Linked DNA regions of Homo sapiens. The protein of the gene in region 1 purifies or fractionates together with the protein of each later gene. This does not show direct contact. Each region holds a gene or a part of one and is shown on either strand. Other genes may lie near its edges.

Region 1 (3,215 bases):
ACAAACATTTAATGATTGCTTCTCAAGGTTAAAAGGTCAAATCCCTGAAACACTTCAAAATCCAAAGGGAATAATATGTAACACTGTAGAAATAACAGCCCACTCTTACTTGTCATGTCCTCCTGACAAGCAAGTAGATTCCACACAAATCACCGGAACTGAAACCCTGGAGCAAACAGCCTCTCCTCTTCCCATCCACCCTCATCTACACAGGCAGGAAGAAGATGAGGGTGCATTCCCCAAAAGGCTTGTAAATTAGAGTCCCTCAAACTGCCTAACCAAAATGCTAAATTTCCCAGTTTCTTTTCCAACAAGAAAAGAAACATGAATTTGGATGTCAACTCTTAACAATCTGGGGTTCTTAAAATTTCTTTCAAAACCATATATAAATAGTCTTTCATGCCTCTGGCAAAATGGCCACCCTTGGGGAAAAGGAAAATAATATTTATAGTAGAAATAAAATGTGATGAGATTTTGTTAAGATCTTCTGCTGGCTCACTCAAAAGACTACTGCTTCTCCGTTCAAGCTGCCACAGTACATCTATGCTAGCAGGGGAAAAAAATTTCATTGGCTCAATGATAAGATAATATCAGTAAGCAATTTATTAAAGAGTCTGCCATCCATCATAGGAATCTGGAACAGTAATGATGCACTGAAAATAAGTATTCACCCCAGGTTTCTTTTCCTCCTCCCAAATTCCTTCAATATCAATATCTCTTTGGTAAATTGTTAATAGTATTTTGCTCTTTGTCCTTTTGGAAACAAGCCCAGGAATGAGAAGACACCAACAGCAGCTGTCACAAACTCAACGGTACTTATCGCTCGGTTGGCCTATAAGGAAACAAGAAGTAAACAAAAAACACATCATATTCTAAAGACATCTGTGTCCTAAATGAAGCTTTAGCCTGTTTCCTAAACTGAACACCTGTTTTAATGTACAATGGATACATCTAAAGTACAATGCAAAATTAAAATTCTGCATAAAGATGAAGAAATAAATTTATAATTTGTATAATTATGTCAAAGATGTAGATACGTACACATGGGTATATATTCCTCATATTTTTAAAGCACTCTGACAGTTTATAAACTAATTATGAACACAGTTCCCATTCATCATAATAGTACACTGGTGAAAGAGGTTAATATACCACTCTTGTTTTGCAAAACTTGGGATATCATAAGTAGTTTGCCTGAGATCATTCCACGAAGATGTTTAAAGATAGGCTGAGTCTTCTGAAACACACGTTCTTCTCCTATGCAGCTCCTGCCCCTTAAATAAACACTTTGGATTGGTTGGGTCTACACCAAAGTAAGTATCGTGTAAGAGTGTGTGTGTGTGTGTGTGTGTGTGTGTGTGTGTGTTTCAGGGATGTCAAATAGCAAATAATTCAGGGATGTCATCTGAGCTAAATACACATAAGCTCTTATTTGGTAGACACAATTTCTTTTCTGATAAACAAATTTCAAAAAAAGCCAATACTGATGTTAACTATCATGTCAAAAATTAATTTCTCATGTAGACAAACCACTCTCAAGATCAACTGTCCATAAAGGAATTCAGACATTTATAGCTTTAAGGGTATTAATCATCATGATGATGAGAGAACTAATGAATATTCATGGTATTCTTGGCACTCAACTAATATTGCCTTCCATTCAAATGGGTTTGAGTGCAATTTGATGACCCAAAGGTCACATTCGGACACTTCAGAATTATCAAGTACTCTGAAAACATATTTGTTCTCTCTGGGATTGAAGAATCAGGTCTTTCAAATAAAGCAAAATATTTTTCCCAAATGACTCTGGGGAACCAGTCTAAGAGCTGGAAAGCCTAACCCAGGTCATATTTGAGCATGCCCTCTGTCTAACCACAGCCTTCCACCGTGGAACCTGCCACCCACGTATTACTGCAACACAATGCTACCTCCCTAACTGCAGCTTCCCTGTTAGGAACAGGCACAAGGGCCAGGGCCAGGAAAGAGGGACACAACAGAAGTCTTGGCTCCATGTGTTTGCAGCATGTGTTCATTCCACTACACCATCCTGTGGTGGGCAGAGACTAGGCCTGTAATTGTGGCCCACTGTCTCTGCTCCAACCCCCAGATGCCAGGGAGAATGGTAAGGGCAAACAACTTGGCACTAACCCTGAAAAATCCTGTTTTACTTTATAATTTTGATTTTATTTGATTTCTTATCTATTTTATTTATATTTTAATCCTTACCTAAACTATTTCCTAAGAGATAATCAGAATTCACTGTAGCACAGAGCCACCCATATGCCATATTGGGGGAGCGGGGGAGAAGAGGCAGGGAGATGCAGGATATAAGATAAAATCCCAAAGAAGAGGAAGAGTCACTAATTAGACAGGGATCAAGCCCAACCCTAGTACAATTCCAGCAGATAGTGAGATCCCAAGAAGGTCTAATAGAGAGAAATGGGGTAGTCAATAAAAAAAAAATGAAGGTGCAATCAGTGTCTTTAAACAGAGGTGTCAAATGGTAGCAGGGTACGGCCCTTGGAAAATGGCAGGATCCTATAGATGGTGTGGCCCCAGCTAGATGCAGACCTAACTGACTAGGTATCTTTCAGCCACTAGAAACACAAGATGTTAATGAAAGCTGACAAATTTAAGAGGCCTGGTTGGGGGATGGGCAACCTGATCCCAAACCAAAATCCCTAGAGATGACAAAGGCCAGATATCATGATCATAAAGCCACTTTAAGCAGTGCCACTTTAAGACAGCTTCCCCAATTCCAAATGTTCATTTATTTCAAGTCTCATTCTAGATAATGAATCTCATGTAATTGGGACAACCCACTGGAGTTAGGAGTAATGGGATGTGATGTGCAAGATTACAACATCTCAGGATGTTCTTGGTGAACCAACATGAACAAGAACTTTTACTTCACGGCTTACTTTGGATTATAAGGTCACCAAATCCAACTCTGCATTCTTTATCCTTTAGAGGGCTTTCTGTCCATGGGCCATAATAAAGGCCTCGTTCTGGGGATCTGTACCTGGCCTAATGAAACATTAGCTGAACCTGGAGTGGCTGTGTCTAGACAGCAGTATAGCGGGGACACAGACGTGTGGCAGGTTTATCAAAACGCTCTTTCCTAAGGCCTCGTAAGGCTGCAGTCATATGCACCGAAGCACCATCAGGATGTGTTCCTGTGTTGCCTTGTCCAGGCCTACTGAAGAGTGTGGGCC
Region 2 (3,648 bases), on another chromosome or scaffold:
AGGGTGGTTTGGGGAAAGAAGGACACTTCCCTGGCAGGGTGGGCACTCCATGCCCCCCACAAACAGCGCCTCCTGGTGGGCATGCTGCGTAATAGGAACAGGAGCCATTTATTAAGTGCCTCCTGTGTGCTGGAGGACTGAGCTGGGACTCTCTGAAGCTGGAGCTCCTTATCCTTATGGCAGCCCTGGAAACAGGCACCATGAATAGCCCTATTTTACAGAAGAGAGGACTGAGGCTCAGCACTCAGTCACAGAGTGAGCAGTTTGCCCAGGGAGAGGCCCTTCCCCACACCCCTTTACCTCCAGCTGCCAGAAAACGGTCACAATCACTCTAGACACCCACAGTCAGTTTCTAAAGAATGCCCCTGGGGTTGTGCAGTGCCCAATTGCACTGTAGGTGATGGCCCAGGTTCCTGGGCACCAGGATGTCCTAACTGGCCCTGGCCTCAGTTTCTCTCCTCCGAGAGTGGGGAGACATCCTGCTGCCTGGAGATGAAAACCTGCTCTGGGGATTGAATCCCAGCTTCACCTGGCTGTGGGCCTCCTAACCAGGAGAATATATATATGTTTTTTTTTTTTTTTTTGAGATGGAGTTTCACTCTTGTTGCCCAGGCTGGAGTGCAATGGCCTGATCTCTGGCTCACCGCAACCTCTGCCTCCTGCGTTCAAGCAGTTCTCCTGCCTCAGCCTCCTGAGCAGCTGGGATTACAGGCATGTGCCACCACACCCGGCTAATTTTGTATTTTTAGTAGAGACGGGATTTCTCCATGTTGGTCCGGGTGGTCTTGAACTCCCAACCTCAGGTGATCCGCCCGCCTGTGCCTCCCAAAGTGCTGGGATTACAGGCATCAGCCACCGTGCCTGGCTTTTATATATGTGTGTGTGTGTGTGTGTGTGTGTGTGTGTGTGTATGTGTGTGTGTATATGTGTGTGTGTGTATGTATGTGTGTGTGTGTATGTATGTGTGTGTGTGTGTGTGTATATATATATATATATATATATATATATATATATATTTTTTTTTTTTTTTTTAGACGGAGTCTCACTCTGTCGCCCAGGCTGGAGTACAGTGGCGCAATCTCGGCTCACTGCAACCTCCGCCTCCTGGGTTCAAGCGATTCTCCTGCCTCAGACTCCTGAGTAGCTGGGACTACAGGCACATGCCACCACACCTGGCTAATTTTTGTATTTTTTAGTAGAGACGGGGTTTCACTGTGTTGTCCAGTCTGGTCTTGAACTCCTGACCTCAAGTGATCCACCTGCCTCAGCCTCCCAAAGTGCTGGGATTACAGGCGTGAGCCACTGCGCCTGGCCCAAGAGAATTTCCATGTTTTTTTCTTCCCCCGGCCAAGGGGCTGTCCCACAGTGTGACAGCTCCAGAAATCAGGATGTTACTGCTCTTCTGTGGGGAAGACCCATGGGTCAGTGGGTGGGGAGCAAAGGCTACATTTTGGGTGTGGTTTGGGGCCAGGGCTTTCCCGATCAAGCCTCCTGACTCAAGGGGCAACCCTGATCCCTGTCACTTTCTCCTGAATTCCTTTGCAGAGATCGAGAATCCTGCTGGGCCCAGATTAACTTCGACAGCACAGGTCTGTGCCTCCACACTCCTGACTCCAGTGGGGAAAGGATTACACCTCCAAATGCCATCAGGCCTCATCACACACCAATCAAATTTCTTCTGTGACTGCTTGTTCCCTTTAGGGTCAAAACACACCCTCGCCACCTCTTCCCCTGGGTTCTCACCTTCTCTCCTTTGACTTAACCTAAAGGTCACCTCCTCTGGGAAGCCTTCCCTGACTCCCTAGACAGGGTCTGTGCCTGCTACTTACAGGACCCCAGGTCCGACCATTCTTCTTACCCCTCGGTAGAAATACAATTAGGCGGCCAGGCGCGGTGACTCACAACTGTCATCCCAGCACTTTAGGAGGCTGAGGCAGGCAGATCACGAGGTCAGGAATTCGAGATCAGCCTGGCCAACATAGTGAAACCCCGTCTCTACTAAAAATACAAAAAAATTAGCAGGGTGTGGTGGCGGACACCTGTAATCCCAGCTACTTGGGAGGCTGAGGCAAGGAGAATCATGTGAACCTGGGAGGCGGAGGTTGCAGTCAGCTGAGATTGCGCCACTGCACTCTAGCCTGGGCAACAGAGCCAGACTCCATCTCAAAAAAAAAAAAAAAAAAAAAAAAAGGCCAGGCGTGGTGGCTCACGCCTGTAATCCCAGCACTTTGGGAGGCCGAGGTGGGCGGATCACGAGGTCAGGAGATCGAGACCATCCTGGCTAAAACAGTGAAACCCCATCTCTACTAAAAATACAAAAAATTAGGTGGGCGTGGTGGCGGGTGCCTGTAGTCCCAGCTGCTCAGGAGGCTGAGGCAGGAGAATGGCGTGAACCCAGGAGGCAGAGCTTGCAGTGAGCCCAGATCGCGCCACTGTACTCCAGCCTGGGCGACAGAGCGAGACTCCATCTCAAAAAAAAAAAAAAAAAGAAAGGGCCAGGCACGGTGGCTCACGCCTGTAATCCCAGCACTTTGGGAGGCCAAGGCAGGTGGATCACGAGGTCAGGAGATCGAGACCATCCTGGCCAACATGGTGAAACCCTGTCTCTACTGAAAATACAAAAATTAGCTGGGCATGGTGGCGTGTTCCTGTAGTCCCAGCTACTTGGGAGGCTGAGACAGGAGAATCACTTGAACCCAGGAGGCAGAGGTTGCAGTGAGCCAAGATTGCGCCACTGCACTCCAGCCTGGTGACAGAGTGAGACTCCATCTCAAAAAAGGAAGAAAGAAACAAAAATGAAACAATTAAGTGATCATTGGGTGCTTGCATATTTCATACTCATTTCCTCTGCTGAACGGCCAGCTCCATGGGGAAAGGACCATGTCTATCTCCGGGACTCCAGGGCCACACTTGCCTTCCAGAACATGCCATTCTGCCAGCTTCCCCAAGGGGGCGAAAGGCAGCCAGTCTGTCATGCAGGATATTCTCTTGAAGGCACCCCAAGCAGAGAAATGTATTCTCTGTACTTCATTCCTGGTCCAACACACACACTTATTGAGCACTTACTATGTGCTAAGATCTGAGAGGGTCCTTTCGTAACCAAGACAGATGTGCTGTCTGTCCACAAGCCCATTCTCCAATGGGAAACAGCCCGTGATGGCACCAGACTGTGTCTGGGACAAGGCAGGTGGTCCCCTGAGGAAGTGATGTTTTTCTTTTTTTTTTTGAGATGGAGTCTCATTGTGTCGCCCAGGTTGGAGTGCAGTGGCACGATCTCAGCTTACTGCAACCTCTGCCTCCCGGGTTCAAGTGATTCTCCTGCCCCAGCCTCCCGAGTAGCTGGGATTACAGGCACGTGCCACCATGCCCGGCTAATTTTTGTATTTTTAGTAGAGGTAGGGTTTCACCATGTTGGCCTGGCTGGTCTCGAACTCATGACCTCAGGTGATCCACCCACCTCAGCCTCCCAAAGTGCTGAGATTACAGGCAATTACAGGCGTGAGCCACCGCCCTTTTGTTGTTGTTGTTTTTTGTTTGTTTTTGTTTTGAGGCGGAGTCTCACTCTGTCGCCCAGGCTGGAGTGCGGTGACGCGATCTGGGCTCACTGCAAGCTCTGCCTCCTGGGTTCAAGCCATTCTCCTGCCTCAG
Region 3 (4,421 bases), on another chromosome or scaffold:
GGGCGTGGTGGCAGGCGCCTGTAGTCCCAGCTACTCGGGAGGCTGAGGCAGGAGAATGGTGTGAACCCGGGAGGCAGAGCTTGCAGTGAGCCAAGATCCCGCCACTGCACTTCAGCCTGGGTGACAGAGCGAGACTGTGTGTCAAAAAAAAAAAAACCCAAAAACCAAAAAAATAAAAAACAAAAATTAGTTGGGCGTGGTGGCAGCTTCCCGTAATCCCAGCTACTCGGGAGGCTGAGGCAGGAGAATCGCTTGAACCCGGAAGGCAGAGGTTGCAGTGAGCCAAGACCGCACCATTGCACTCCAGCCTGAGTGACAAGAGCGAAATTCGGTCTCAAAAACAAACAAAACAAAAAAGCTGGGCATGATGGTTCGTTGCCTGTAATCCCAGCTACTCGGGAGGCTGAGGCATGAGAATCACTTAAACCCCAGAGGCAGCGGTTGCAAATCTTCAGGGCCTGAGATCGTGCCACTGCGCTCCAGGTTGGGCGACAGAGTGAGACTCTGTCTCAAAAATAAACAAATAAAAATAAATATAAACAAAAGTAGAGAAAACAGGGTAATGAGACCCCACGTACTTATCACACCAATTCAACAATTAATTCACGGTCAAAGATGATTCTTCCCTACCCGCCCCCTCCCTGCCCCCACAGCCTGGATTTATGTGGAAGCAAATCCCAGAGATCTTTTTTCTGTAAATATTTTTTTTTCAGTTTGCGTTTGTAAAAAACGATGACTCTTTTTTTTTTTTTTGAGACAATGTTTTGCTGTGTCGCCCAGGCTGGAGTGCAGTGGCGGGATCTCTGTTCACTGCAACCTCCGCCTCCTGGGTTCAAGCAATTCTCCTGCCTCAGCCTCCTGAGTCGCTGGGATTACAGGCACGCGCGCCACCAAGCTCGGCTCATTTTTTGTATTTTCAGTAGAGACGGGTTTTCACCATGCTGGCCAGGCTGGTCTCGAACTCCTGACCTCAGGTGATCCACCCGCCTCGGCCTCCCGAAGTGCTGGGATTACAGGCGTGAGCCACCACGCCCGGCCGAGGAATCAAAAAGACAACCATAATGCCATTTTCAAACCTAAAGTAATAGTGATACGGAGACGGGGAAATGAATGATACCTCGCTCTGACCTTTGACCATAAGCCCTAACTCTGGATAGCTGGCCCCACCACACACATAATCGTGGCCTTGACGTCAGTCCCCTGACCCCGGACCCTTATCTCGGCCTGACTGTACTCTGCCCTTAACCTCTAGCCCTAGTCGACTCCATAACCGTGGCCTTGGCCCCAGTCCCCCTGACTTCCGGACTTCAGACCAGATACTGCCCATATCCCCTTATGAAGTCTTGGCCAGGCAACCCCTAGGGTGTACGTTTTCTAATGATTAAAGAGGCGGTGCTAAGCTGCAGACGGACTTGCGACTCAGCCACTGGTGTAAGTCAGGCGGGAGGTGGCGCCCAATAAGCTCAAGAGAGGAGGCGGGTTCTGGAAAAAGGCCAATAGCCTGTGAAGGCGAGTCTAGCAGCAACCAATAGCTATGAGCGAGAGGCGGGACTCTGAGGGAAGTCAATCGCTGCCGCAGGTACCGCCAATGGCTTTTGGCGGGGGCGTTCCCCAACCCTGCCCTCTCTCATGACCCCGCTCCGGGATTATGGCCGGGACTGGGCTGCTGGCGCTGCGGACGCTGCCAGGGCCCAGCTGGGTGCGAGGCTCGGGCCCTTCCGTGCTGAGCCGCCTGCAGGACGCGGCCGTGGTGCGGCCTGGCTTCCTGAGCACGGCAGAGGAGGAGACGCTGAGCCGAGAACTGGAGCCCGAGCTGCGCCGCCGCCGCTACGAATACGATCACTGGGACGCGGTGAGACCGGCAGCGCCGGGGGCGAGGGACGGGGGCTCGTCGGGGGCGCGGCCTGGGGACGTGGAGCATCAGATGGGGCGGGGACACGCTGGGGGCGGTACCTAGAGCGGGGATTTGGAGCGGGGACAGAGGAGACGAGCGCCGGGACCGGGCAGGGCCACACTGGGGGCGGTTACAGTACCGTTTAGCGTGGGGGCGGGGCTACGGTGCTGGGGTTGTGGGGCCAGGGGGGTCGGGCGCAGGGATGGGGCGGGGCCACGCTGGGGCGGGGACAAAGGAGACAGCGCAGGGATGGGGCGGGGGCACTCTGGGGGCGGGACAGGAGGCGAGCGTAGGGACGGGGCGTGGCCACGCTGGGGGCGGGGACAGTGGGGACCAGTGCTGGGATGGGGCGTGGCCACGCTTGGGGGCGGTTACAGCGCAGTCGAGCGTGGGGGTGGGGCCAGGGAGTCGGGTGTAGGGTTGGGGTGCGATTACGCTGCTAGCAGTTACAGTGCAGAAGAACGTGGCGGCTGGGATTGGGGCGTGGTCAGGTCGTCGAGCGCATGGATGGGGCGGGGCCAAGCTTGGGGCGGGGTCCGTGGAGTCAAGCGCCGGGATGGGTTGGGGCCATGCTGTGGGGGGGACGGGGAAGTCGAGGTTTAGAGAGGGCAGAACCACGCTGGGGGCGGAGATAGGGGAGACACATGCTGGGATGGGGCAGGGCCTTTTTGGGGTCGGTAGCTATTGCAGGGATTTGGGAGCTGGGCTATGGTGGGGGCTGGGCTGAAACTCTGGCTGTGGGAGGGGCGGGACCTGGGGGATGAGGACCTTGGGGTCAGGGAGAGCACTTTTGCGACCTGGGACCAAGGTTAGGGGCGGAAACGGATGTGGAGCCAGATGATGTTGAGAGACAGAGACAGGACACTTGGGTGGGGTCAAGTTGTAGGGAGATTCAGCCAATTGAATGCTGGGGCCGGGCCAGCATTGGGGACCTGGAATTGTAGCCTCAGGGTGAGTACTAAGGACTGAGGTCACACCTAGGTAGGGCCATAGTTGAGGGGCTAGGGGAGTTTGAGTTGAGGGCAGGGTCAAGAGTCACATAGGGAAACCAGCCCCTTGCCGTTTTCTGCCCCTCCTTGCCTCAGTTTCCTTGTTCCCTCTGGGAGCTCCCAGGCTTAACCGAGCTCTCTGTGCAGGCCATCCACGGCTTCCGAGAGACAGAGAAGTCGCGCTGGTCAGAAGCCAGCCGGGCCATCCTGCAGCGCGTGCAGGCGGCCGCCTTTGGCCCCGGCCAGACCCTGCTCTCCTCCGTGCACGTGCTGGACCTGGAAGCCCGCGGCTACATCAAGCCCCACGTGGACAGCATCAAGGTGGGCAGAGGACGGTGCCTTGGCACTCCCAGCCAGGGGGTAGGCAGGCCCGGTTAGATCCTGACCCATCCCCACGCCTCTTTTGCAGTTCTGCGGGGCCACCATCGCCGGCCTGTCTCTCCTGTCTCCCAGCGTTATGCGGCTGGTGCACACCCAGGAGCCGGGGGAGTGGCTGGAACTCTTGCTGGAGCCGGGCTCCCTCTACATCCTTAGGTACCTCCATCCAGGCAGCACCCACCCCTCCAAGAATGTGCCATCCGCCCACCCTGTGCCCTGGGTACTTTCCCTCAATCCAGCCCTCCCCGAAGACGCCTTTACCCCAGGGTCTGTGTGGGAGGCAGCAGGGGGCTGGAATCCAGGAGGCTGGAATCCAGGTCTGCCTGGAGCAGGGGCTGCCCTCCTTGCACCCAGTCACAGCCTGTTTCTTCCTGCAGGGGCTCAGCCCGTTATGACTTCTCCCATGAGATCCTTCGGGATGAAGAGTCCTTCTTTGGGGAACGCCGGATTCCCCGGGGCCGGCGCATCTCCGTGATCTGCCGCTCCCTCCCTGAGGGCATGGGGCCAGGGGAGTCTGGACAGCCGCCCCCAGCCTGCTGACCCCCAGCTTTCTACAGACACCAGATTTGTGAATAAAGTTGGGGAATGGACAGCCTAACTGGGACATTGCAGTGGCTGCTTGCTGGGGCCGGGATTTGCAGGGGAACCCAGGATGGCACTGGCCCATAGGGAGCTCCAGGTGTGGCTGGCTGGACACATGGTCAAAGTCACAAGGCCGGGAGAGTGGTGTCCTTTATTGCACTCACTGCTGGTCGCCCCAGCCCACTCCCCTCCTCGTTGTCTCTGCATCCAGGTCTCCAATAAATAAGTCAGCCGAGCTCCCCCAGCACTGCAGCTTCTGGGTGCCAGGCCGGGCACCCTCAGCCACCACAGCCGCAGGCAGCCGCCGAGAGCTGGGGCAGCCGCTGCCAGCGGTGGCGGTCATCGAGGAAGGCCACGTCGGTGTAGCGAGTGGGCCGGCAGCAGGGCCCGCCGTGGGCTCGGCCCTGGCCCTGCAGCCGGGCCAGCGCCAGGCCATGCTGGGTGCGGGCACCACGGGGGCAGCTGCCGGCGCAGTAGCGGAAGATGACCTTCTCCTCTGAGGCGTAGCCCAGGCCTAGCTCTGCCACGGACAGGGTCAGGCTCCACAGCTGGCATGGACCAGACAGGGCTCGGCGCAG

Evidence for each region.
Region 2: the proteins of PLAAT1 (region 1) and C19orf38 purify together in Homo sapiens (affinity purification with mass spectrometry; one large-scale study listed by BioGRID and IntAct). This does not show direct contact.
Region 3: the proteins of PLAAT1 (region 1) and ALKBH7 purify together in Homo sapiens (affinity purification with mass spectrometry; one large-scale study listed by BioGRID and IntAct). This does not show direct contact.

Annotation. Positions count from the first base shown.
Region 1 is NC_000003.12:193,268,221-193,271,435, reverse strand, and holds the end of PLAAT1 (phospholipase A and acyltransferase 1), read right to left. Parts: intron 833-3,215; coding exon 731-832; 3' UTR 581-730; downstream 1-580. UniProt on the Homo sapiens protein: Exhibits both phospholipase A1/2 and acyltransferase activities. Shows phospholipase A1 (PLA1) and A2 (PLA2) activity, catalyzing the calcium-independent release of fatty acids from the sn-1 or sn-2 position of glycerophospholipids.
Region 2 is NC_000019.10:10,858,370-10,862,017, forward strand, and holds part of C19orf38 (protein HIDE1 precursor), read left to right. Parts: intron 1-1,545; coding exon 1,546-1,589; intron 1,590-3,648.
Region 3 is NC_000019.10:6,371,173-6,375,593, forward strand, and holds ALKBH7 (alpha-ketoglutarate-dependent dioxygenase alkB homolog 7, mitochondrial precursor), read left to right. Parts: upstream 1-1,621; 5' UTR 1,622-1,648; coding exon 1,649-1,852; intron 1,853-2,632; exon of another isoform or gene 2,633-2,719; coding exon of another isoform or gene 2,720-2,845; intron 2,846-3,030; coding exon 3,031-3,204; intron 3,205-3,292; coding exon 3,293-3,417; intron 3,418-3,638; coding exon 3,639-3,801; 3' UTR 3,802-4,078; downstream 4,079-4,421. Other genes in the region: PSPN (persephin preproprotein), read right to left, coding at 4,122-4,421.